Linked DNA regions of Homo sapiens. The protein of the gene in region 4 binds, or shares a complex with, the protein of the main gene of each other region. Each region holds a gene or a part of one and is shown on either strand. Other genes may lie near its edges. The genes, in order: TMEM67, CEP290, TCTN1, TMEM17, AHI1, B9D2 and MKS1.

Region 1 (3,500 bases), on a different chromosome or scaffold from region 4:
GAGCAAAGGAATCTGGAGACAGACAAAACAACTTTTAAGATCTCAACACTTTATCCAGAGTGGTACCTTTTACCCTTGATTAATGGAGACAAAATTCATGCCTGAAGACATTTTGTCCCATTGTGAATGTATCATCAGACTTTAAAGAAAGTTATATACTGAAATATCATTTTATCAAATAAGCCATACAAATTCATGGCTTCTTTGAAAAAAATATTTAAGGCAGAGTTTCAGACTGAGCATCTACTATAAATAAAAGTAAATTTACCACATAAAATAATTAATGCTTTCTTTCAAAACCAAAGTGAATTTCACGCCAAAGATTTTTGAAAGCATTTTAATTTTAAAGACTTGTTAGTTCATTAGCAGGCCTTTTAAATTTGGTAACCTGTCCTTTAAAACTTACCTTCAGAGCAAAGGCACATCCAACATAAGTGACAAAACGTTCTTCCTGAATTGGCATTGGCAGCAAAACAGACACAGACTTCTGTGCCTATAATAAAAATTACTTGATTAAATATTATCACACACAGTTTTTTTTGTTTGTTTGTTTGTTTTTTGTTTTCGTTTTTGTTTTTTTTTGGGAAAGGAGGGTCTCAGTATGCTGCCCGGGCAGGACTTGATTCTGGACTCACAGGATCCTCCCACCTAAGTCTTCCAATTGAACAAGGTTTTTACTAAGCACAATTTATAAACCAAAGAAAGCATAAAAGAGGAAGATAGTGATGTAATCGATAAGCTCAGCACACTCAAGGAATGGGGAGTTGGGAACTTTTCTTAATACTGTTGATCAAAAATTCTCTCAAATAAAAATAGTTCCTTTATAAAGAAAGCTTTTCAACTATTCAGATATTGGCAGTTGGGGAAAATTCAGAAACTCACTCACTTTGAAGAAAATAAGCCAGTAAAGACCTGTTCCCACTGTGATGATAAAGAAAACATTGGCCAGATCACCAGCATAGTACACCAAGAATTTCACAACTGTCTGCAATTTAAAAAAAAGAATTACAGCTGTTTAAGACTCCATGTATATACCACTTTTAGTAACACTACCACTTTTATACATCATCCACTCCATTTCTTAAGCCTGAAGCCTTGTTTCACATATCCCCATATGATCCAGCTATAAAGACCACCTGCTTCCTCCTCCTTGCTACCTTTTGGCTCCTTACCTTTCTGGCCGTTCCTGGTAGCCTCTTCTTTCAACTCTTCTCATCTTTCACTATCTAAGAAAATTGAACTGCTTCCTAATTTTCTCTTAGTTGGGAATCCTCCCCTCTAATCTCTCCTCCACACTACCACCAGAGTTAGTTTTCTAAGATGTAAATTGGATTGTGTCACTCCCCTTGTTAAAAATGAACAACTCCTCATTGCAATATAAATTCCTGATCCACAAGGTCTTTCACAATATGGGCCAAAATTAACTTTTTAGCCTCATCTGCCAGTTCCAGCCATGTAGTCAATGACTAACCACTCCATACGTTCATCTCAAATACTTTCTGGAATAAAATGGGCATTGTTTTACCAAATATTCTTCTCTTCCCCTCTCTGGTAAGTTCTCATGATTTCTGAGAGCACAGACTATGTCTGTCTTTGCTCACTAACACATTCTCCAGCTCCTGGTAGAGTGCCAGACACTTAGACAATAGAGCCTCAGTGACTATTATAGAATGAACAGATAATCCCACTTAAAGTTCATTTCTCTGGGAAGCCTTTCTGGACTATCCCAAGTAGTAAATCAAGTACCCCTGCTGATTCCTTAGCCCACTGGCTTTGGAATCAGAAAGATACTTTGGTTAAAGCTACCATGTAACCTTTCTCATGTTCTTCATCAACAAAACGGAAATACCTATTACTGAGTTGCAAAAATCAAGTGAGTAGAAAATTTAACCTTTACCTCAATTTCATCACGTGTAAAACGCAAATAATAATAATAACCTAACTTCAAAGAGCTACTGTGCGGATTCAGAAAATTACATACATAAAGCTTTAAAAAGTGCCTGGTACATGGTAAATATTTTTTAAATGTTTAATAAAAATAAAAGGTTAACCATGAAGTGAAAGTATAAAGTTAATAGAATAAAATGTGGACTATCTTTGTGATCTTGATATAGGGACGGTTTTCCTAAACAAGATCCCAAAAGCACGTATCATAACATGAAAAAAAATATTCAGATATGATGATATCAAAACCAAAAGTTTCTGGCCAGGCGTGGTGGCTCATGCCTGTAATCCCAGCACTTTGGGAGGCTGAGGTGGGCGGATCATGAGGCCAGGAGTTCAAGACCAGCCTGAACAACATGGTGAAACCCCGTCTCTACTAAAAATACAAAAATTAGCCAGGCATGGTGGTGTGCGCCTGTAATTCCAGCTACTCAGGAGGCTGAGGCAGGAGAATTGCTTGAACCCGGGAGGCAGAGGTTGCAAGTGAACCAAGATTGTGCCTCTGCACTCCAGCCTCAGCGACAGAGTGAGACTCCGTCTCAAAAAAACAACAACAAAAAAAAACAAAAATGAAAACAAAAACAAACCTGAAAGTTTCTGTTAAACAAAGGACTACATGGATAAAAATAACGGATGGGTCACATATTTATTTGGTCATATATTTCAACATCAGAAACCAAAAAGGGGTTACTATTTAGAAAATACAAAAAAAAATTCTTCAAATAAACAATAAAAACTGGAAACATAATAGAGAAATGGGCAAGGGATATAAACAGGCAGTTCACAGAAGGAGAAACCCAAACGATTAAAATGTATATGAAGAGTACAGAGAAATGAAAATGAAATCAACAATGACATACTACTATATGCCATGAGGTTGGCAAAAAATGAAAAGGTTGGAAAAATATCAAGTGTTGCCAAGTATGTGCAGAAATAAGAAGAGCATTGCTGGTGGGAATATAGACTGGCATACAGTATGGTGGGAAGAAAATGAGGTACACATATACCATATGACCCAGCAATACTTACCCTAATTACATATCCCAGAAAAATTCAATGCAACTTTTTTACTTATTCTCTAGCTGTGTCTTATGAGAAGGATCCAGAATGGTCAAAAGATAAAAATATTCTTAAAAAACTCCTGAGATTATACCTGTAAATCAATCATGGGACTCCCAATGCGCCTCTTCCATCCTGCTGTCTTCAAAAGAGATGCTAAAACAGCTAGCCCACCCAATACACCCAAAGCAATCTAAAAAACAAAAGAACAATTGAGAATTTATGTAATTTCTGTCATCGGTGTTCAAAAACACTGTGAACAAGTAAGGAAGTGCTCAAAAAAATGGTGGGGTGGGAAATGTTGAAAGGACACAGGAGTCAGCCGGGCACAGTGGCTCACACCTGTAATCCCAGCACTTTGGGAGGCCGAGGCAGGCGGATCATGAGGTCAGGAGATCAAGACCATCCTGGCTAACACGGTGAAACCCGTCTCTACTAAAAATACAAAAAATTAGCTGGGCATGGTGGTGGGTGCCTGTAGTCCCAGCTACTGGGGA
Region 2 (3,500 bases), on a different chromosome or scaffold from region 4:
AATGTGGTAGAGAAAGTATGGATCGATGCCACTTAAATGTTAGGAAGAAGCTCTTAGAGCATTATCTGTTTAGCTAACTGCAAAACATAGCAGACATGTGGATTTTTTAATAGTCATCAAGGATCTAACTTATAATATACACTGGTAGAATTGCTTAGGGGGATGTCTGTGGTTTTCTGGACTTTTGTTCTTCTATATAGACCTGTATCAGTTGACTTATCATTCATACCACACACCCTTAGCTAATCAGAACTACCTTGTCCATTTATATCTTAGACTATTGTCTTTTTTCATAGTCACACACAGAGAAAACTTGAATATATGGCCTGTGTTCCTTTTTGGCTGCTCAATTCCTTGAGATGAAATATGGGTATGGGTTGCTTTGGCAATTACTTCTTTGCCGTTAACCAGTCATTCAGTTTTATTGAGTCTTTACAGCATACCAGAGGCTGCTAGTTACTAGTGATATAGTGGGCAACTATGTTCTGGTTCTCAAGAATATTCATAGTCAATAATAAGCATAACATAGTGATAATATGATACTTAGGGAGATACATAAGGTCATATTCTGGCATACTCTGGAGAGAGATACCGTAATCAGCCTTGAGGTGCAGGATGTGATCTGTAAACTGAGACCTGAAGTATAGTTAGACTGGTAAGAGGAATGAGGATATATATGGTGGTTAATAAAAGAACATTCTGGGTAGAAGATATAGCATTTGCTAAGACCTAGAGGTAAGAGATGTTATGGAGTATTTAGGAAACTACAGTTATTCATTTTGACTGAAATATAAGTGAAAATAGCTTTCATAGAGTCCTTACTATGTGCCAGGCACTTCATATGCATTAATTCATTATTGCTTATTTGATACTTGTCATATGAGATAGTTGTCATTTCTGCCATGATACAGATGAAGAAATGGAGACACAGAAAGAGTAATTGCCCATGGTTGCACAGCTTATAAATGGTAAAGGTAGGATTTGAAAACAGTCTTACTCAAGAGTCTGTGCTATCTTGCCTTCCCAGTTTTATTTTTTATGATCCTCTGGAGAGATAAGCAAGGGCCAGTTCCTAATGAATTTGGTTCTTTTCCTGAAAGGAGCCAGTGAAGAGTTTTGAGCACAGGATATCATGATCAGATCTATACTTTAAAAGTTTACTGTACTTTGTAGAGAGTGGATTGAAAAGGGCCAAGACTAGTAAGGAAACATTTGTGTTAATTCAGGGAAGTGCTAATGATGGCATTTGCCTGAGAAAGACAAGTGTGAGAGAAGTAGATGTAATTGGATGTGGTGAATGTAATTGGTTGTTGGAGGAGAGGGAGGATGGAGAGTCTGCCTAATTTTGTGGGTTGGGCCACTAAATAGGTAGATAGTGCCATTCATTAAGGAGGAACACAAGAGGAATTTGGAAAGCTTGAGATTATTTCAGTTTTGTAGATGTTGAGTTTGAGGTTCTTCTGGGCATATTCAAAAAGGGTATCTGTGGATATGGAATTCACAAGAGACCCTGTACAGATGATGAGGATTTATGAATCATCAATGTAGACATTATTGAAGCCAGAGAAGTGATTGTAAGGCACGTCTCTGAGAAATGTCTAATAAAGCAATGAAATAGGAAGAGTGCTTCAAGGAAAAGCTCAAGAAAGGAGAAACAGAGTGTGATGTTTGAGAAGACAAGGGAAAAAAACATTAATAGCATTAAATGCTTTAGCATTAAGTTCTTGGCTTCTCTTCTTGTAAAAATTTCCCAATTCAGAACACAGTGGGATTATTAACTTTCAATTGATAATAATAATGATAGGCAAACTTCTAAAATTTGTATTGTAGTTTGCATTTTATTATAAACTTTCTTTAAATTTTTATTTTGAAAAATGTCATATCTTCATAAAGATTGTAAGAAACACACTGTTGGTGTTAATGTAAATTAGTTCAACCATTGTGGGAGACAGTGTGGCAATTCCTCGAAGATCTAGAAGCAGAAATACCACTTGACCCAGCAATCCCATTACTGGGTATATACCCAAAAGAATATAAATCATTTTCTTATAAAGATACTTGCACACATATGTTCATTGCAGCACTATTCACAATAGCAAAGACATGGAATCAACCCAAATGCTCATCAATGATAGACTGGATAATGAAAATGTGGAACATATACATCATAGAATACTATGCAGCCATCAAAAGAGAATGAGAGGTCAAGCGTGGTGACTCATGCCTACAGTCCCAGCACTTTGGGAGGCCGAGGCAGGCAGATCACTTGAGGTCAGGAGTTCAAGACCAGCCTGGCCAGTATGGTGAAACCCCATCTCTACAAAAACAAAACAAAACAAACAAAAATTAACTGGTCATGGTACTGTATGCCTGCAGTCCCAGCTACTTGGGAGGCTGAGGCAGGAGAATGACTTGAACCCAGAAGGCAGAGGTTGCAGTGAGCTGAGATCGCACCACTGGACTCTAGCCTTAGCAACAAAACTAGAGTTTGTCTCAAAAAAAAAAAAAAAAAAAAACCGGAACAAGATCATGTCCTTTGCAGGGACATGGGATGGAGGTGGAAGCCATTATCCTCAGCAAACTCACACAGGAACAGAAAACCAAACACTGCATGTTCTCACTTATAAGTGGGAGCTGAACAATGAGAACACATGGACACATGGTGGGGAACAACACACACTGGGACCCGTCAAGGGGTCGGGGTGGGAGAACATCAGGAAGAATAGCTAATGGATGCTGGGCTTAATATCTAGGTTATGGGTTGATCTGTGCAGCAAGCCACCATTGTACACATTTACCTAAGTAACAAACCTGCACATCTTACACATGTACCCCAGAACTTAAAAGTTGATGGGAAAAAGAAAAACAATAACCACCCACATACCCTTCATATAGATTCACCAGTTCTTAATGTTGTGCCAACTTTGCTTTATCTTTTTGTCAGTATTTTTACACACACATGTATTTCTCTGTCTCTTGTTTGTTCAATCACATTTTTTGCTGAGTCATTTAAGAGCTAATTGCAGATATGATACTTTGCACTTAAATATTTCAGCTTGTCTGTTTGAAAAAGAAAGATGTTCTCCTACAATGAACACAATATAATTGTCATGCTCAGGAATTTTAATATTGATTCAACACCATTATCTAGTCCATAATGAGATTTCTTCTAATGGCCCAATAATATCCTTCAGTCTCCCCACCTCCAATATCCAAAGTTCTGTCAAGGATCACATACTACATTTGGTTCTTTATTATAGACTTTTTAAATATCGTTGTATACCATTGTGATTCTATCGTCTCCTTTAATAAAGAGGAGAACCAGAAAAATGAAAGGTCATAAGAGGAATGAGGTTTGGAGAATAGGTGAAAAAAGGCATCATAATGTTTATAATAATGTTTGCCTGTTCAGAGAAACAAGAATCACAGATAAAGTCACTTATATGTAGATAAGAGAATGCTGTATTACTTTTTGCTATTCTATTCACTGATCATTTTTC
Region 3 (3,500 bases), on a different chromosome or scaffold from region 4:
TGATCATGATGGCAGGTGCCTGCAATCCCAGCTACTTGGGAGGCTGAGGTGGGAGAATTGCTTGAACCTGAGAGGCGGAGGTTGCAGTGAGCCAAGATCACACCACTGCACTCCAGCCTGGGCGACACAGCAAGACTCCATCTCAAAAACAACAACAACAACAACAACAACGCAGCTCTATCACTAGTTCTGACAAGTTGCTTTCCTGTGCCTAAGTTTTTCTCATCAGGTAAATGGAGACAATGGTGCATCCCTCCCAGGGGGGTGCATGAAGTAATGCCTGAAAAGCTCTTCACAGTGCCTGGCACATGGAAAATGCTCAATGGTAAATTTTATATTGACATGGGAAGATGCACATGATTTATCACTGAAAAAGGAATTTTCTAGAACAATGTGGATACCTATAAATCCCACTTCTATACAACACCATATATACATTATAATAGACATATTTAAAAATCAGGAAGAATACACACCAATCTCTTCAAAGTGATTTGCAGTATGAATATTAATGGATACAGGGATCTTTCAACTTATATGCCTCTATATGTTGAACTTTTAGAACTAGTACATGTTGCTTTTATACTTTGCTTTTAAAAAGATGCTTCCAAAAGAGTTAAGGTTCATTCAGTTAATATGTGTCCCATTTAAAGGTGTACTACTGAATAGACATAAAACAGCACACATCTTCCAAAATCTGTAAAACTAAATACAATTTTGAGAAGATGACCAGACAACCAACCAATCTACTCCATGATCTCAGCAACATGCCTCAAGCATTTTGCTGCATCTTTTAAGGTTGAGGAGAACAAAGAACTCTGAAGAGACAAAATACAAGTTTATCACAGAATAAACAACCTTAAATCCTCTATTCAGAATTCAAATATTCAGTTTTATTTTTATTATTATATTTTAAGTTCTGGGATAACGGGTGCAGAACATGCAGGTTTGTTACGTAGGTATACACGTGCCATGGTGGTTTACTGCACTCATCAACCCATCATCTACATTAGGTGTTTCTCCTAATGCTATCCCCTCCCCTAGCCCACCACCCTCTGACAGGCCCCTGTGTGTGATGTTCCCCTCCCTGTGTCCATGTGTTCTCATTGTTCAACTCCCACTTATGAGTGAGAACATGCGATGTTTGGTTTTCTGTTCCATGTTAGTTTGCTGAGAATGATGGTTTCCTACAAAGGACATGAACTCATCCTTTTTTATGGCTGCTTAGCATTCCATGTTGTGTATGTGCCACATTTTCTTCACCCAGTCTATCACTGATGGACATTTGGGTTGGTTCCAAGTCTTTGCTATTGTGAATAGTGCTGCAATAAACATACGTGTGCGTGTGTCTTTATAGAATGATTTATAATCCTTTGGGTATATACTCAGTAATGGAATTGCTGGGTCAAATGGTATTTTAGGTTCTAGATCCTTGAGGAATCGCCGCACTGTCTTCCACAATGGTTGAAATAATTTACACTCCCACCCAACAGTGTAAAAGCGTTCCTATTTCTCCATATCCTCTCCAGCACCTGTTGTTTCCTGACTTCTTAATAATCGTCATTCTAACTGGCGTGAGATGGTATCTGATTGCAGTTTTGATTTGCATTTCTCTAATGACCAGTGATGATGAGCCTTTTTTCATAGGTTCGTTGGCCACTTAAATGTCTTCTTTTGAAAAGTGTCTATTCATATCCTTCACCCACTTTTTGATGGGGTTGTTTTTTTCTTGTAAATTTATTTAAGTTCCTTGTAGATTCTGGATATTAGCCCTTTGTCATATGGATAGATTGCAAAAATTTTTTCCCATTCTGTAGGTCACACGTTCACTCTGATGATAGTTTCTTTTGCTGTGCAGAAGCTCTTTAGTTTAATTAGATCCCATTTGTCAATTTTGGCTTTTGTTGCCATTGCTTTTGGTTGTTTTACTCATGATGTCTTTGCCCATGTCTATGTCCTGAATGGTATTGCCTGGGTTTTCTTCTAGGGTTTGTATGGTTTTAGGTCTTACATTTAAGTCTTTAATCCATCTTCAAATATTCAGTTTTAATTTTCATGATCTTTGATTTGTAGGCATGAACATTAAGTTTTTTAGTCTATAATATCAACTCTGTCTCAAGGAACCCAGTTTTCCTGGTAACCTTGAAAATTAACTTACAAGGAAAGATATTTGTGATGGGATGAAAAGAATCAATCAAGTTCAGGCTCACCTCATATTTAGCAGCAGTAGGAATATCCAGTTTGGTTGTGAAGGAAACATATGATTCAGCATTCAATGTAAAACCATCAGATGTTTTCATCAATGTATCAAAATTGTTTTCATCAGGTACTTCTGGATTAATAAAGGATAATGCAGGTTTATCTGTTTTTTAAAAAAAACAGTATTTTAAATCGGTATAAAATATATGTATAATATGTATGACCTATATAAAGGTTTTGGAAAGTTTTTAATAGCATCAAGGCTGATGTAAAAAACAAATAGTGTCTTGGCTGGGCGCATGGGCTCACGCCTGTAATCTCAACACTTTGGGAGGCCAAGGCGGGCGGACTGCCTGAGGTCAGGAGTTTGAGACCAGCCTGGCCAACACGGTGAAATCCTGTCTCTACTAAAAATACAAAAATTAGCCAGTCATGGTGGTGTGCACCTGTAATCCCAGCTACTCGGGAGGCTGAGGCAGGAGAATCGCTGAAACCCAGCAGGCAGAGGTTGCAGTGAGCTGAGATAGCGCCACTGCACTCCAGCCTGGGTGACACAGTGAGACTTCATCTCAAAAAAAAAAAAAAAAAGTGTATTTTTCCATATTCACTTCTCCCAGGATTTTTTAAAGCTTATTAAACAAACAGGACCTCCAGACTCAGCCTGCTTCTTCTAATAATGGGGAAGTAATAGTTTGTAGCACTTACAAGTAAACAGCACAACAGAAGCCAATAATAATCCGTCTATTTCTCTAGCCCCTGGACTGATGAGTTTGCTGTATCAACCTGTAAGGAGAAGCTCTCTCCGGATGGCTATGGGAATGAAAGAATCCGACTTCTACTCTCACACAGCCACCGTGAAAGTCCTGGAGTAAAATGTGCTGTGTACAGAAGAGAGAGAAGGAAGCAGGCTGGCATGTTCACTGGGCTGGTGTTACGACAGAGAACCTGACAGTCACTGGCCAGTTATCACTTCAGATTACAAATCACACAGAGCATCTGCCTGTTTTCAATCACAAGAGAACAAAACCAAAATCTATAAAGATATTCTGAAAATATGACAGAATTTGACAAATAAAAGCATAAACGTGTCTCTGATCTTTGATATCCTGATAACATTTTACATGTACATGTACTTTGGATCTAGACATATATTTGAGCTAAATGCTCAGATAAAAATAAAGATCCTGTTTTCATGCAAATATTCTTAGTAAAAATAAAAGAAAAAAGGAAATAGAAACCACAGGTAATGTTCAAAGCTGAGCCTGATTTTCAACCATTAAACCAGGAGGAAATAAAGTTAA
Region 4 (3,478 bases):
AAGAGCAGTTTTTAATGCAGCTACAACTGTCCCTCAGTAAAATACATTATGAAGGCCCATTTCCCTATAGAAAAAAAGAAAACCTGTAATGAACATATCATATCCATTAAGACAGTCCAACAGTCACTTAAATATAATGTTCAGATACACCCAAGCAACTTTGTTCTTAACCAATTCTCCTAAAATAGATTTCTCCTATTAGCAAGGGAGCATGCTCATTTAGGATCATGAGTATAGTCCCTTTGGCCATCTTAGCTCTCATATGTATTAAGAGGCGCTCTGGTTTCCAAATCAAGCCTCACGTGAATTTAATGGGTATGAAGCAGTTCTTTGGTGAACAAGAACCTAGTAGATGCAATCACAAGTGCTAATTTAAAATGCCTACTACAGTGCCCACTACATAGAAAGTTCTCTAGGATTTGTTTTCCTTCCTTCTCTTGCAACTCTGTAATAAAAAACACAAATCTATAGCCCAAAATAATTGCACAAGACAAGGATGATTTGCTGCTGATACCTTAAATATTTAATAATTTATTGTAAAAGCATTTTGTATACCACCATTACAAATACTGAATATGGTTTTATGAAAGTTGTAATTTTATAACAAAAATATTTCCTAAATACCAAGGCAATCCACCTGTTTTCTTCTTCATCTCAGTATAACAGCTAATATTAGGGTTAGAATTTAACCCTAGCAGACATGAAAATTTGGTCTCTTGTTTTATTTTTTATTTATTTATTTTTTTGAGATGGAGTCTTGCTCTGTCACCCAGGATGGAGTACAGTGGCTTGATCTCGGCTCACTGCAAGCTCTGCCTCCTGGGTTCACACCATTCTCCTGCCTCAGCCTCCCAAGTAGCTGGGACTACAGGTGCCTGCAACCACGCCTAGCTAATTTTTTTTTTTTTTGTATTTTTAGTAGAGGCTGGGTTTCACCGTGTTAGCCAGGATGGTCTCGATCTTCTGACCTCATGATCTGCCCACCTCGGCCTCCCAAAGTGCTGGGATTACAGGCGTGAGCCACCACACCCAGCCGGTCTCTTGGTTTACAAATATAGACAAATACATAGGAACACTGACTGGTATTTCCATGTCAAGAAACATGGTCATATGTACAGACAAGACATGGATAACCAACAAGTTTTAAAGAAATGTATACATCTCTAGTTAAAGATTCTAACCAGAAATGCTACGAGAGAGCTGGCAAATGACAACCACCAATACATAGATTTCTACACTCCTGAAAAAGACAACAACATCAAAAAAAATTAAGAAATTTGGCATCAGGTGGACAACATCTAGGTTTTAGGGTTAATATACTGTTTCATATACTGTACAAAGTTTCATCATTGCCCCCAACCTTGGAATTTCAGAGTGAGAGCATATACAATTCAAAACACTTGCTTTGTCCCTTTTCTCAGAGCTCTGATATTTTCCTAACTCTTACAGTCTCTAGAATGATCTGTCAGATTTTCACTCAACAACACTGGATCAGATCTCTTCTATACATGACCTCATCCTTCTCATGTCTCCTCTGTTTGCAGAGAGCCGGTCAAAGTCTTGGAGGTGGAAACGAACTGCCAACTGATTAACCATTTTCCTTAAGGTAAGAAATGCTGCAACAACTTGGAAAGCAAGGAAGAGAGTGAAGATGATATGTATCGCTTTTTCCAAGGGCAGATTTGTTAGGCCTTCATTAAAGAGCAAGAAAAGAATTAAAGGTAACTGCAATAGAAGGCTCAAAAGCCAAAAGCCAGCCAACTCAGGAACCTGCAATGACACATATCAAGAGTAATAAAAATCAGTAAAATACAGTTTCTGTTTATACAGATAAACAAGTACTTATCACTACCGTGAACCTACATTATGGGCTCTGTGAGTGATTCCAAAGGAGGATGACATGGTCCTTGTCCTCAGAGAACTTACAGTCTAGATGAGAAAACTAATTCATGTAAAACAATCCTAGAATACTACACTTTAGTGAACAATTAAGTGCAATATTTAGAAGTACAGACTAAATGCTACAAGAAATAAGGGAGTGATTAGGGTAGGTGAAAGAAAGACCTCAGGGAGGTAGGCTTTTTAAGTTGTGGAGAAGAAGGAAGAGGCAAAAAGGTAAGTAAGCAAACACGTGAAATTAGCATGATTGGGAATCAGCACATCAGCCTGGAATGGATGGCTGAGTGAGAAAACAGCAAAACCTACAGTAAGACAGGCTGGGTGGGGCCTTATTATGAAGGGCCTAGAAAACCACGGGAATCTTTAGGCATTATCCCTATACTCTGGTAACCACAAATGCTTAGGCAGCATGATGATGCAGAAAACATGGGCCTGGCATAGGAAATGAATTCATAATTTTCCCCCATTTTCTTATTCAGGATCCAAATACACATGTTTAAGTAACCATGTATTTTCAAGACTGATAAGAAGAGGGAAAATATCAATTTTAAGTGTTTACTACATTCATATACTTTACATAAATCATTTCACTTAATCACAACAAACCTGTGAAGTAAATATTATTTTCCTCATTTTATATATGAGGAAACCAGGGCTCAAGAGATTAAGCAAACAGACCACAGTGACAGAAGTGGTAAAGCTGGAGTCAGGCTTTAAATTCAGGCCTGTGCTCTTTCTGCCACACCTCACTGCCTTTTACTTGTTATGAAAACTGATTTCATTTATATCTATCACTGAGAGAAAGGAAAAAAGAGCTTACCTTCTCCTGTAGGTTACCCACGTAGCCCAGATACAACCGGATGGCTTCAATTAAGGTTATTAGGATGATAACAGTGATCACAATGAATTTGTAGTAGTCAGGTAAGATTGAATACTAAAAGAAAAGCCAAAACATGTTTGTAAAATCTCATGTATAGTAACATTGATTTAAGATAGAAAAAATTATTAAGAACTTGAATTTTATTGACACTCTAACAACGTCAGGGCAGCAAAAGTATTAAAGCTTAGATTTACCTTCATGTGAAGCATCATAATGCTGCTCACCCACCACAGTGGGAAATAGTAGGTATTAAAATAAAGTGACATCTGCAGTGCCAAACTGGAGACCATTTCATTTTCTACAGAAGGAACAGAAAAGGAACAAATGATGAATCTTGGGTTTATGCCCTATATATATATATCCTATTCCCTAGAATTAATAACTATAATATTGGCTCAGTAAAACACCAAATTTTATGCCTATTTATAATCATTGACAGTAAAAGGAATATTCATCCTAATACCAGTTAGGTCAAATATTGGCTATTTGGGGGTACGTTTCATATTTTTCAATTATTTTACCATTTTGCCATTACAGTCTTCTGACTTTTTGGCATATACTACTGGTATAGATTTAATGTAGAATATCAACATAAATCCTATTCAACAGATAATTATCATTGCCTCTTTTGTAGAATTCTATGTAAATAGCATATAAAATTAATGCATAAAATAAATAAAAATGAATCTCCCACAGATA
Region 5 (3,500 bases), on a different chromosome or scaffold from region 4:
TTATAATAAAATAGACATTGCCAGGCACAGCGGCTCAAGCCTGTAACCCCAGCACTTTGGGAGGCTGAGGCAGGTGGACTGCTTGAGCTCAGGAGTTTGGGACCAGCCTGGGTAACATGATGAAACCTCGTTTCTACAAAAAATAGAAAAAAAGTTAGCTGGGCATGGTGGCACATGTCTGCAGTCCCAGCTACGTGGGAGTCTGAGGTGGGAGGATCACCTGAGCCCAGGGAGGTTGAGGCTGTAGTAAGCTGTGATTGCACCACTGCACTCCAGCCAGTGAGACGCAGTGAGATATTGTCTCAAAAAAAAAAAAAAAAGACATAAAATTGATTTTACATAAAAAAGGCACAAGACTGTAAACCCTTTGAGTTGTCATATTTTCTTTGTGTGCCCTAAGGCAAATGAATAGGTGAATGGGCTTTTTTTGGACAATCTTCCTGTTTCCATTCCCCACTGGCTTTCCAAACAATTTTTTAAAAAATTCTAGTATAAATGTGTATTTCATTGTACTTTTCATTTGGGATTTCAAGCATGCATTAGCTATAGAAGTACTCTTAGAAAAAACATTCAAGATTCATTTACCTTACCTGAAGCCCAGATAACATTACTTTCAAAAGAAAAATATGAGGTTAGACAATTAAAGCATTTACAATGCAATATAAAATATTTACAATGCAACTTTATGTCATAAATTACATCTACTAAGCTGGCAGAAGCTCTCTACCACTTAAAATGAATTATTCCCTTCCACTTAAAAGTAATTACTGAGCCAGGCACGGTGGGTCATGCCTGTAATCCCAGCACTTTGGGAGGGTGAGGCAGGTAGATCGCCTGAGGTCAGGAGTTCGAGATCATCCTGGCCAAACCCCGCCTCCACTAAAAATACAAAAATTAGCCAGGAGTGGTGGCGAGTGCCTGTAATCCCAGCTACTTGGGAGGCTGAGGCAGTAGAATCGCTTGAACCCAGGAGGCAGAGGTTGCAGTGAGCCAAGATTGAGCACTGCATTCCAGCCTGGGCGACAAAGCGAGACTCCATCTCGGAAAAAAAGTAATTACTGAATTAGATGTTCTCCATTTCTTCTACAACATTCTGATCAATGTTAATGACTGATGAACACCTACAACTAGTAGACTATTCTCTAATACAAATCCATAACTCTATTCCCACTGACTTTCAACTACCAATGGCAGAAAAAAGACTTCTACTAGTTTCAGTTTCAAGAATTAGTTGTGCAATTAAAAAAAATTACCTATCATCTTTCTTGACATATTGACCAGTATGCTCATCAACCACATGAATTTTTACCATTGGGTGAGAAATCATAAAATCTGACTTAAGTCTATCAGTTCGGTGAATGTAAACTCCCAAGACAAGGTCATCATCAAGCAAACATTTGGGATAAACCGGGCTATCTCGGCTTGTTATTTCATGAACACCATCACCATCAACATCTTCATTATTATCTGCAACTACACGCATGGAAAAAAAAATCAATGTTATAATTAGTTGTTCCCATAGTAGTATTTACATATAACCTAATCTTTAAGATCTGTGATGATCTCACTGTGTTCAAAGGAACTTCAGGGGGAAAGAAAGAAAAAGCCAGACAACAGCAAACCATAGTGTGAAAGTAAAATACTACATTTGCTAATACATTACAAATAAGGTGAAAAATCCTTGTTTATATTTTTCCTAATAAGTAGGAGAAACACAAAAAGAAAAAAAAGAGAGTCAAAGTCAGAAAAGTAACTTTATCCAGGTATTTTCTAAGTAGAATATATATGACAACTAGAATTTCTAATTCTGGGTGGGATGCAGTAGGATGCAGCAGGTAAACACTTTGGGTAACAACTGGAAAGAGCCAAATAAATTACAAATATCTTATTTTAAATTTTAAAGGCATCAGAAAAGTACAGAAAGAAGATATAGTAGACAGATTAAAATTCCAGAAAGGGAGAATCAGTCAGAGGTCAGCTGATGGACTGGCAGCTGTTTTTGTCTCTGGGGACATTTGCTGATTCAGGGTGTGAGCTGAAGATGAGAGTTTGGCTTAGGCAGAAAGTCACTGCCAGGAGAATGAGAAATAAGCAAAACTTTTAGTGATTCCACAGGACTAAAATGATAAAACTGGAGATTTGAGAAGCCTCAAACACATGACCAATTCTTCTCACAAAACTGAATTCTGATGCTACAGAGAAGCTAGAGAGGTAGTGAAATCTCCCAGGCTTGTGGTGCTAGCAGACCATGATCTGCCAGGGGAAGGGGACCAAAACAAAATAGGCAAAGGTGAAGCCCTGGAGGGTGTGGTCAATTTACACTAAGGACCAAGAGCAACTTTTCATCTGGGGTCATCTACCAATTCTGGTCACAGTTCTAGGTTGATAATCCAGGTGTGATTTCTGGCAGAAGGTTGCTACTGAGGGACAGAGAAACCAGCGGATATTTTGGCATGCTTGGGGGCTACAGTGACAAAAATGGATACCTGAAGGATGTCTAACATATAGCCAGTCTCCTGCTCAAAGAATTTGCCAAATTTTGAAGCAGCATGAGACAGAAGACTAAATGGCTAAGTGGAAAAGCACTGAAGGGCAAAACTGGATCTCCCATCGTATTTAGGGCTATGAATTATTAGAGATAAAGAAGGGCGCTGCATTATGATAAAAGTGATAACTTGACAAGAGATACAAGAAAAATAAACTGAAAATCGGAATGGAAATGTTAATACCTCTCTCAACAGCTGACAGAATAAGTAGACCAAAAAAATTAATAAGAAGAACTGAGCACAATTAAACTTGACCTAACTGACATACATAGGACACTGCACTCAACATTAGAAATTGCATTCTTTTCAAATGAGCATGGAATATTTACCAAATCTGACCATAAAATGGTCATTAAAAAGGCCTCAATAAACTCAGAGGATTGAAATCATTCATAATATGTTATCTGACAACAATGGAAGACAGAAACCAATAAAAGATAACTAGAAAAGCATCTGCTGCCTGAAACTAAGCAACATACTTCTAAATAATGATCAATTAAAATGGAAATTAGAAAATATTTTGTGTTAAATAATAAAAACACACAATATTAAAAATTTTGGAGATGCAGGTAAAGTAGTACTTAAATGGGAATTTAGTCTTAAATGCATATAAAAGAAGACTGAAATCTTTCTTATAAAACCCAATTTTAAAGCTAGAAATAAGTAGCAAATCAAACCCAAATAAGTACAAAGAAGGAAAATACAGTTACAAGAAAAAAAATCACTAAAATAGTACATAAATGTACAACAGAGAAAATCAAAGCTAAAGGTTGGTTTTTGAAAAGACTCATAAATTTAAAATCCTAAGGCTGATCAAGAAATTGAGAGAAAACAAACTGCCAATACCATGAATGAAAACATGGGACAGCCTTTCAGATGCTATAGAAATGCAAAATTTGGATGAAATAGACACATCCCTCAAAAACTACAGTATATCAAATAGCTGACAGAAGT
Region 6 (3,500 bases), on a different chromosome or scaffold from region 4:
GCTTGGGCTCTGCAGTTAGAGCTGAGTCTGAATCCAGTCCCATGATGGGACCTTGGTCTGCTATAGTCACTGCTATGTCACCAGCATGGAAAACAGTGCTTGGCACATAGCAGGTGCTGAATAAATGTTCATGAACTCACCTTCTCAGAGCCTGTTTCTTTACCTGTTAAATGGGGATTATATTAGCTCCCACCTCCTAGGATCACTTATTTGTCCAAGAAACATTTATTGAGCACCTTCTGTATACCAAGAGCTGGGTTTGTGGTCTTGGGGATCCAGCAGTGTGCAAGGTCCCTGTTTTCCTGGGCCATACAGTAGGGGAGACAGAAAATAAATAAGCAGGCCAGGCGCGGTGGCTCATGCCTGTAATCCCAGCACTTTGGGAGTCCGAGGCGGGCAGATCACCTGAGGTCAGGAGTTTGAGACCAGCCTGGCTAACATGGTAAAACCCCATTTCTACTAAAAATACAAAAAAAATTAGCTGGGCATGGCGGCGTGTGCCTGTAATCCCAGCTACTCGAGAGGCTGAGGCAGGAGAATCGCTTGAACCCAGGAGGCGGAGGTTGCAGTGAGCCGAGATGGTGCCATTGCACTCCAGCTTGGGCAACAAGAGCAAAAGTCTGTCTCAAAAAAAAATAAATAAAATAAAATAAATAAACAGATAAACGAGTGCAGTTGGGTGTGGTGACTCACCCCTGTAATGCCAGCACTTTGGGAGACTGGAGCAGGAGGATCACTTGAGCCCAGGAGTTTGAGACCAGCCTGGGCAACATAGTGAGACCCCCGTCTCTACAAATAAATAAAAAATTAGCAAAGCATAGTGCTGTGTGCCTGTCGTCCCAACTACTTGGGAGGTTGAGGTGGGAGGATTGCTTGATCCTGGGAGGTCAAGGTTGTAGTGAGCTGTGATTGTGCCACTGCACTCCAGCCTGGGTGACAGAGGGAGATCTTGTCTCCCCCCACCCCCCCAAAAAAAGAAAGGAGCACCGTGATTCCAGACAGTGGTAAGTGCTAGGATGAAAAGAAATGATGTGGCAGGGACTAGTGTTTGGTGAAGAGGGTCAGGGAGAACCCCTCTGTGGAAGTGGCACTTGAGCTGGGCCCTGAAGGATGAAAACAAAAGCTAGGGATGGGGACACCCAGGAGCAGAGCTTTCTAGGCAGAGGGAACAGCCAGTGCAAAGGCCCTGAGGTGGGGAGTCAGAAGTGGGACAGTGAGGCCAGAGGGTGATGAGGGAGGGGGAGAGTGATGGGAGATGAACTCAGGGAGGGGAGCAAGAGCCAGGCCACGTGGGCCATGGTGGAGGGTCTGTAAACTGGGGGGTGAGGAGGGGATTAAGAGTCCTAGAGGGTGGATTAAATGAATGGATGCTTAAAGTACTTAGCATAGCATCTGGGATTTAGTTAGTACTCGGTGCATTTTCTTTTTTTCTTTTCTTTTTTTTTTTAGATGGAATTTCGCTCTTGTTGCCCAGGCTGGAGTGCAATGGGACCATCTTGGCTCACTGCAACCTCCGCCTCCTGGGTTCAAGTGATTCTCCTGCCTCAGCCTCCTGAGTAGCTGGGACTATGGGCGTGCGCCACCACACCCAGCTAATTTTTGTATTTTTTTAGTAGAGATAGGGTTTCAGAATGTTGGCCAGGATGGTCTCGATCTCTTGACCTTGTGATCTGCCTGCCTTAGTCTCCCAAAGTGCTGGGATTACAGACGTGGCTAATTTTGTGGGTGTGTGTGTGTGTGTTTTTAGTAGAGACAGAGTTTTACCATTTTGGCCAGGCTGGTCTCGAACCCCTGACCTCAAGTGATCCACCTGCCTTGGCTTCCCAAAGTGCTAGGATTACAGATGTGAGCCACTGCGCCCATCCTAATTTTTGTATTTTTAGTAGAGATGGGATTTCGCCATGTTGGCCGGGCTGGTCTCAAACTCCTGACCTCAGGTGATCAGCCCGCCTCAGCCTCCCAAAGTGCTGAGATTACAGGCGTGAGTCACTGCGCCTGGCTTGTTTGTTCATTTTTTGAGATGGAGTCTCACTGTGTCACACCAGCTGGAGTGCAGTGGTGCAATCTCGGCTCACTGCAGCTTTTCCAGCGATTCTCGTGCCTCAGCCTCCCGAGTACCTGGGATTACAGGCACCTGCCACCACTCCAGACTAATTTTTGTATTTTTAGTAGAGACGAGGTTTTGCCATGTTGGCCAGGCTGGTCTTGAACTCCTGACCTTAGATGATCCACCCCCCCCTAAGCCTCCTAAAGTGCTGGGATTAGAGGTGTGAGCCACTGCGCTCAGCCTTAATTTTTATATTATTTGTAGAGATGGGGTTTTGCCATGTTGGTCAGGCTGGTCTTGAACTCCTGGACTCAAGGGATCTACCTGCCTTGGCCTCCCAAAGTGCTGAGATTACAGGTGTGAGCCACTGTATCCTACCACTCAGTGCATTTTAGCTATCATTATCACCCCTCAGTAGGATCGAAATTGTTATGTGTGTTTCAGGATGCGCTCCTGGAGGGTACCCTTGGCCCCATCTTAATCCTTGGACTAGGCTTGAAAATATGGGGTGAGAATCGTAATAAAATGATATTGAAGACTTATCCCGTGCTCACTATGCTCATTACCCATTCATGGATTAATGGGTTAATGGATTAGTGGGTTATCATGGGAGAGGAAGTGGTGGCTTTATAAAATGAGAGAGAGAGACGTGAGTGGCATGTTAGCACACTAGCCTTGGGACTCTCTGAAGAGTTCCAGCAAGAAGGCTCTTACTAGATGGGGCTCCTCCACCTTGGTCAGTCTCCTATAACTGTGAGATAGAAATTCCTTTTCTTTATAAATTATCCAGTTTTGGATATTATGTTAAGAGTAACAGAAAACAAATGAAGACAATGAGGAATGCATTATTACTCAGCTCATTTTATAGATGGGGAGACCAAGGCAGAGAAAGCTAACTTGCCCAAGGTTGCAGAGGCAGGAAGAGGTAGTGCCAGGATTTGAACCCAGATACTTGGTTCCAGAGTCCATGCTTCGTAACCCCTACCAGTAGATGCCACAGAGAAACAGTCCTATAGCCACAGCGGCATCCCCTTCCCGATGGCTGCCTCCCACCCCTCTATGTCCCGGCTCTCACTGCAGGGGCGGCATGGAAGCTCCTGTCAGGCGTGCGGGAGGGCCAAACGCAAGTGGACACCCCGCAGATAGGGGACATGGCTTACTGGTCCCACCCCATCGACCTGCACTTCGCCACCAAAGGTCTTCAAGGTGGGTATCACACCTGGACCCGGGTCCAGGCTGAGGGGAGGGGGCCAGTAGCCTCTGAGGTCCCTGGGGCTGGGAACACCAAGACCTGTCCCTGCTCCCCATACCACGTAGGTCCCTTTTGCAGCCAAGTCTGGCCCTGGAGAGGCTGAGCTAAGGCCTTCCCAGGCCTGCTCAATAGGCGATCCCAAGTTTGTATGATTAGGGCAGAGGCCAGGGTGGAGCAGGAGGTGGGAAGGTGGGGGGTCAG
Region 7 (2,157 bases), on a different chromosome or scaffold from region 4:
GTATCCGTACATAGGAGAGGTCCTCCAGTTCCAGAGAACCGCCAATGAAAAACCTCCTCAGCTCAGCCACCGTGCCAAGCTCCACAGGTCTCCACGTGGAGACTGTCAGGGTGTGTGAGCCTGCGCAAGGGAAGAGAAGACTGGGGCCAGGTCCAGAAAGGGCATGTGGCCCCTCACTGACTCCCCAGCAATGACACAGGCCTAGACTCAGCTAAAACACCTGGTCTGGTGATGACCTGGCCTCTGGTGCAGGTTATCATGGTTACCCATAGCACCTGTATGGAAATCAATCAGGGAGAAATTCAAATTTCCGCTCTGCCAGTTATTACCTGCATACCCAGGACAGGTTTCTTAACCTCTCTGAAGCTCATTCTCCTCATCTAGTAAAATGGAAATAATACCACCTGCACCTCACAGAGTGACTGGGAGAATTAAGTGAGAAGTATGGCACAATGCCTGGCACACAGTAAAAGACAGATGCTTTTATTCCAAACTGAATGCTGATTCATTCAATACACATATGCTATGAGCCAATTTTGCCATACAGCTTCTCACCCTGAGTCCAATCAGAGGAGCATGAAGCACATGGAGAGACTGTCAGGAAGTCAGTGCCAAGGCCACGTCATTGTCGCTAATGGAGGGGGGCAGAAAGTCCTCAGAGGAACAGGAACTCTTTCAAGCCAAACATTTCCAATTCCCAATTATCTCCACCCCTCACCAGAAGCATTCGAGTGTTAGTCTTGTTCTTAGGGCCTAGGGCATGTGGGCCACAGAAGGGCAGAGACGAGCGGTTACCTGGAGTGGCAGGCAGCACCACAGCCCCATAGCCTTCCACACGGTACCTCTGCCAGAAGTCCAGCGAGAGGACCTCACAGTAGAGCACAGGCCACTCCGGGAGTGCATCTGGGAGCAAGGAGAGAAGCGGCCAGGTCACAGGCGGCCTTCACCAAGAGACAGCACTGCTTGAGGGGAACCAAGGCCCAGGATCAACTGCTGAGCTACTCACCAGAAGATTCATCCTCATGGAGGAAGAAGGCTTCAAACGTGAATGGGTAGGAGAAGTGAGCCACCTTGTCCTATAAAAAGGAGTGTCATAGGGTGGGCAAGGCCTCCCTTGGAATCTGTTCTCCTTGTGGCCAATGACAAGGTTATCTTCACAAGGGAAAAAGAAAAATTATCACCCAGGTGGGAAATAGGAGTCTGAGATGCAAAAGGACACCCAAATACAAGCTGCTGCCATGCTCAAAAAGACAGACAGGATCTCCGGACCAGGTGGCCCTGTAGAACCCACACACAAGTCACCCAACTCTGGAATCCTCCCCAGGGCGCACAGCACTTGGCCTGATAAAACCTCAAATGCCATCCCAGGAGCAGATCTCATTCCCTTCCAGATACCCGCTCTCATTCTCCATACCATTGCCAGGGACTTGGTGGTGCAGGTCTGTGTTACTCCTGAGAGCTGCTGGAATGCTGGGCTTGACCAGTCTGAAAGCCAAAGACCAAATATAGTAAGCTCGCCTGGGAGGAAAGCAAGTCATTCAGAAAAAGACAGTTTCTTTTTTCTTTTCTTTTTTTTTTTTGTATTTATTGATCATTCTTGGGTGTTTCTCGGAGAGGGGGATGTGGCAGGGTCATAGGATAATAGTGGAGAGAAGGTCAGCAGATAAACACGTGAACAAAGGTCTCTGGTTCTCCTAGGCAGAGGTCCCTGCGGCCTTCCACAGTGTTTGTGTCCCTGGGTACTTGAGATTAGGGAGTGGTGATGACTCTTAAGGAGCATGCTGCCTTCAAGCACCTGTTTAACAAAGCACATCTTGCACCGCCCTTAATCCATTTAACCTTGAGTTGACACAGCACATGTTTCAGAGAGCACGGGGTTGGGGGTAAGGTTATAGATTAACAGCATCCCAAGGCAGAAGAATTTTTCTTAGTACAGAACAAAATGGAGTCTCCTATGTCTACTTCTTTCTACACAGACACAGTAACAATCTGATCTCTCTTTCTTTTCCCCACATTTCCCCCTTTTCTTTTTGACAAAACCGCCATCGTCATCATGGCCCATTCTCAATGGTCGCTGTCTCTTCGGAGCTGTTGGGTACACCTCCCAGATGGGGCGGCCGGGCAGAGGCGCTCCTCACTTCCCAGACGGGGCGGACA

Evidence for each region.
Region 1: TMEM17 (region 4) and TMEM67 share a complex: the UniProt entries of both Homo sapiens proteins name them as parts of the tectonic-like complex.
Region 2: TMEM17 (region 4) and CEP290 share a complex: the UniProt entries of both Homo sapiens proteins name them as parts of the tectonic-like complex.
Region 3: TMEM17 (region 4) and TCTN1 share a complex: the UniProt entries of both Homo sapiens proteins name them as parts of the tectonic-like complex.
Region 5: TMEM17 (region 4) and AHI1 share a complex: the UniProt entries of both Homo sapiens proteins name them as parts of the tectonic-like complex.
Region 6: TMEM17 (region 4) and B9D2 share a complex: the UniProt entries of both Homo sapiens proteins name them as parts of the tectonic-like complex.
Region 7: TMEM17 (region 4) and MKS1 share a complex: the UniProt entries of both Homo sapiens proteins name them as parts of the tectonic-like complex.

What each region holds. Positions count from the first base shown.
Region 1 is NC_000008.11:93,792,894-93,796,393, reverse strand, and holds part of TMEM67 (meckelin isoform 1 precursor), read right to left. Parts: intron 3,197-3,500; coding exon 3,098-3,196; intron 986-3,097; coding exon 887-985; intron 494-886; coding exon 407-493; intron 1-406. UniProt on the Homo sapiens protein: Required for ciliary structure and function. Part of the tectonic-like complex which is required for tissue-specific ciliogenesis and may regulate ciliary membrane composition.
Region 2 is NC_000012.12:88,132,089-88,135,588, reverse strand, and holds part of CEP290 (centrosomal protein of 290 kDa), read left to right. Parts: intron 1-3,500. UniProt on the Homo sapiens protein: Involved in early and late steps in cilia formation. Its association with CCP110 is required for inhibition of primary cilia formation by CCP110.
Region 3 is NC_000012.12:110,627,629-110,631,128, reverse strand, and holds part of TCTN1 (tectonic-1 isoform 1 precursor), read right to left. Parts: intron 3,200-3,500; exon of another isoform or gene 2,905-3,199; intron 2,363-2,904; coding exon 2,211-2,362; coding exon of another isoform or gene 2,097-2,210; exon of another isoform or gene 872-2,096; intron 1-871. UniProt on the Homo sapiens protein: Component of the tectonic-like complex, a complex localized at the transition zone of primary cilia and acting as a barrier that prevents diffusion of transmembrane proteins between the cilia and plasma membranes.
Region 4 is NC_000002.12:62,499,718-62,503,195, forward strand, and holds the end of TMEM17 (transmembrane protein 17), read right to left. Parts: intron 3,078-3,478; coding exon 2,974-3,077; intron 2,834-2,973; coding exon 2,720-2,833; intron 1,771-2,719; coding exon 1,492-1,770; 3' UTR 501-1,491; downstream 1-500. UniProt on the Homo sapiens protein: Transmembrane component of the tectonic-like complex, a complex localized at the transition zone of primary cilia and acting as a barrier that prevents diffusion of transmembrane proteins between the cilia and plasma membranes.
Region 5 is NC_000006.12:135,456,241-135,459,740, forward strand, and holds part of AHI1 (jouberin), read right to left. Parts: intron 1,474-3,500; coding exon 1,254-1,473; intron 1-1,253. UniProt on the Homo sapiens protein: Involved in vesicle trafficking and required for ciliogenesis, formation of primary non-motile cilium, and recruitment of RAB8A to the basal body of primary cilium.
Region 6 is NC_000019.10:41,357,650-41,361,149, reverse strand, and holds part of B9D2 (B9 domain-containing protein 2), read left to right. Parts: intron 1-3,127; coding exon 3,128-3,253; intron 3,254-3,500. UniProt on the Homo sapiens protein: Component of the tectonic-like complex, a complex localized at the transition zone of primary cilia and acting as a barrier that prevents diffusion of transmembrane proteins between the cilia and plasma membranes.
Region 7 is NC_000017.11:58,207,099-58,209,255, forward strand, and holds part of MKS1 (tectonic-like complex member MKS1), read right to left. Parts: intron 1,486-2,157; coding exon 1,415-1,485; exon of another isoform or gene 1,410-1,414; intron 1,077-1,409; coding exon 1,007-1,076; intron 904-1,006; coding exon 796-903; intron 632-795; coding exon of another isoform or gene 606-631; exon of another isoform or gene 463-605; intron 121-462; coding exon 1-120. UniProt on the Homo sapiens protein: Component of the tectonic-like complex, a complex localized at the transition zone of primary cilia and acting as a barrier that prevents diffusion of transmembrane proteins between the cilia and plasma membranes.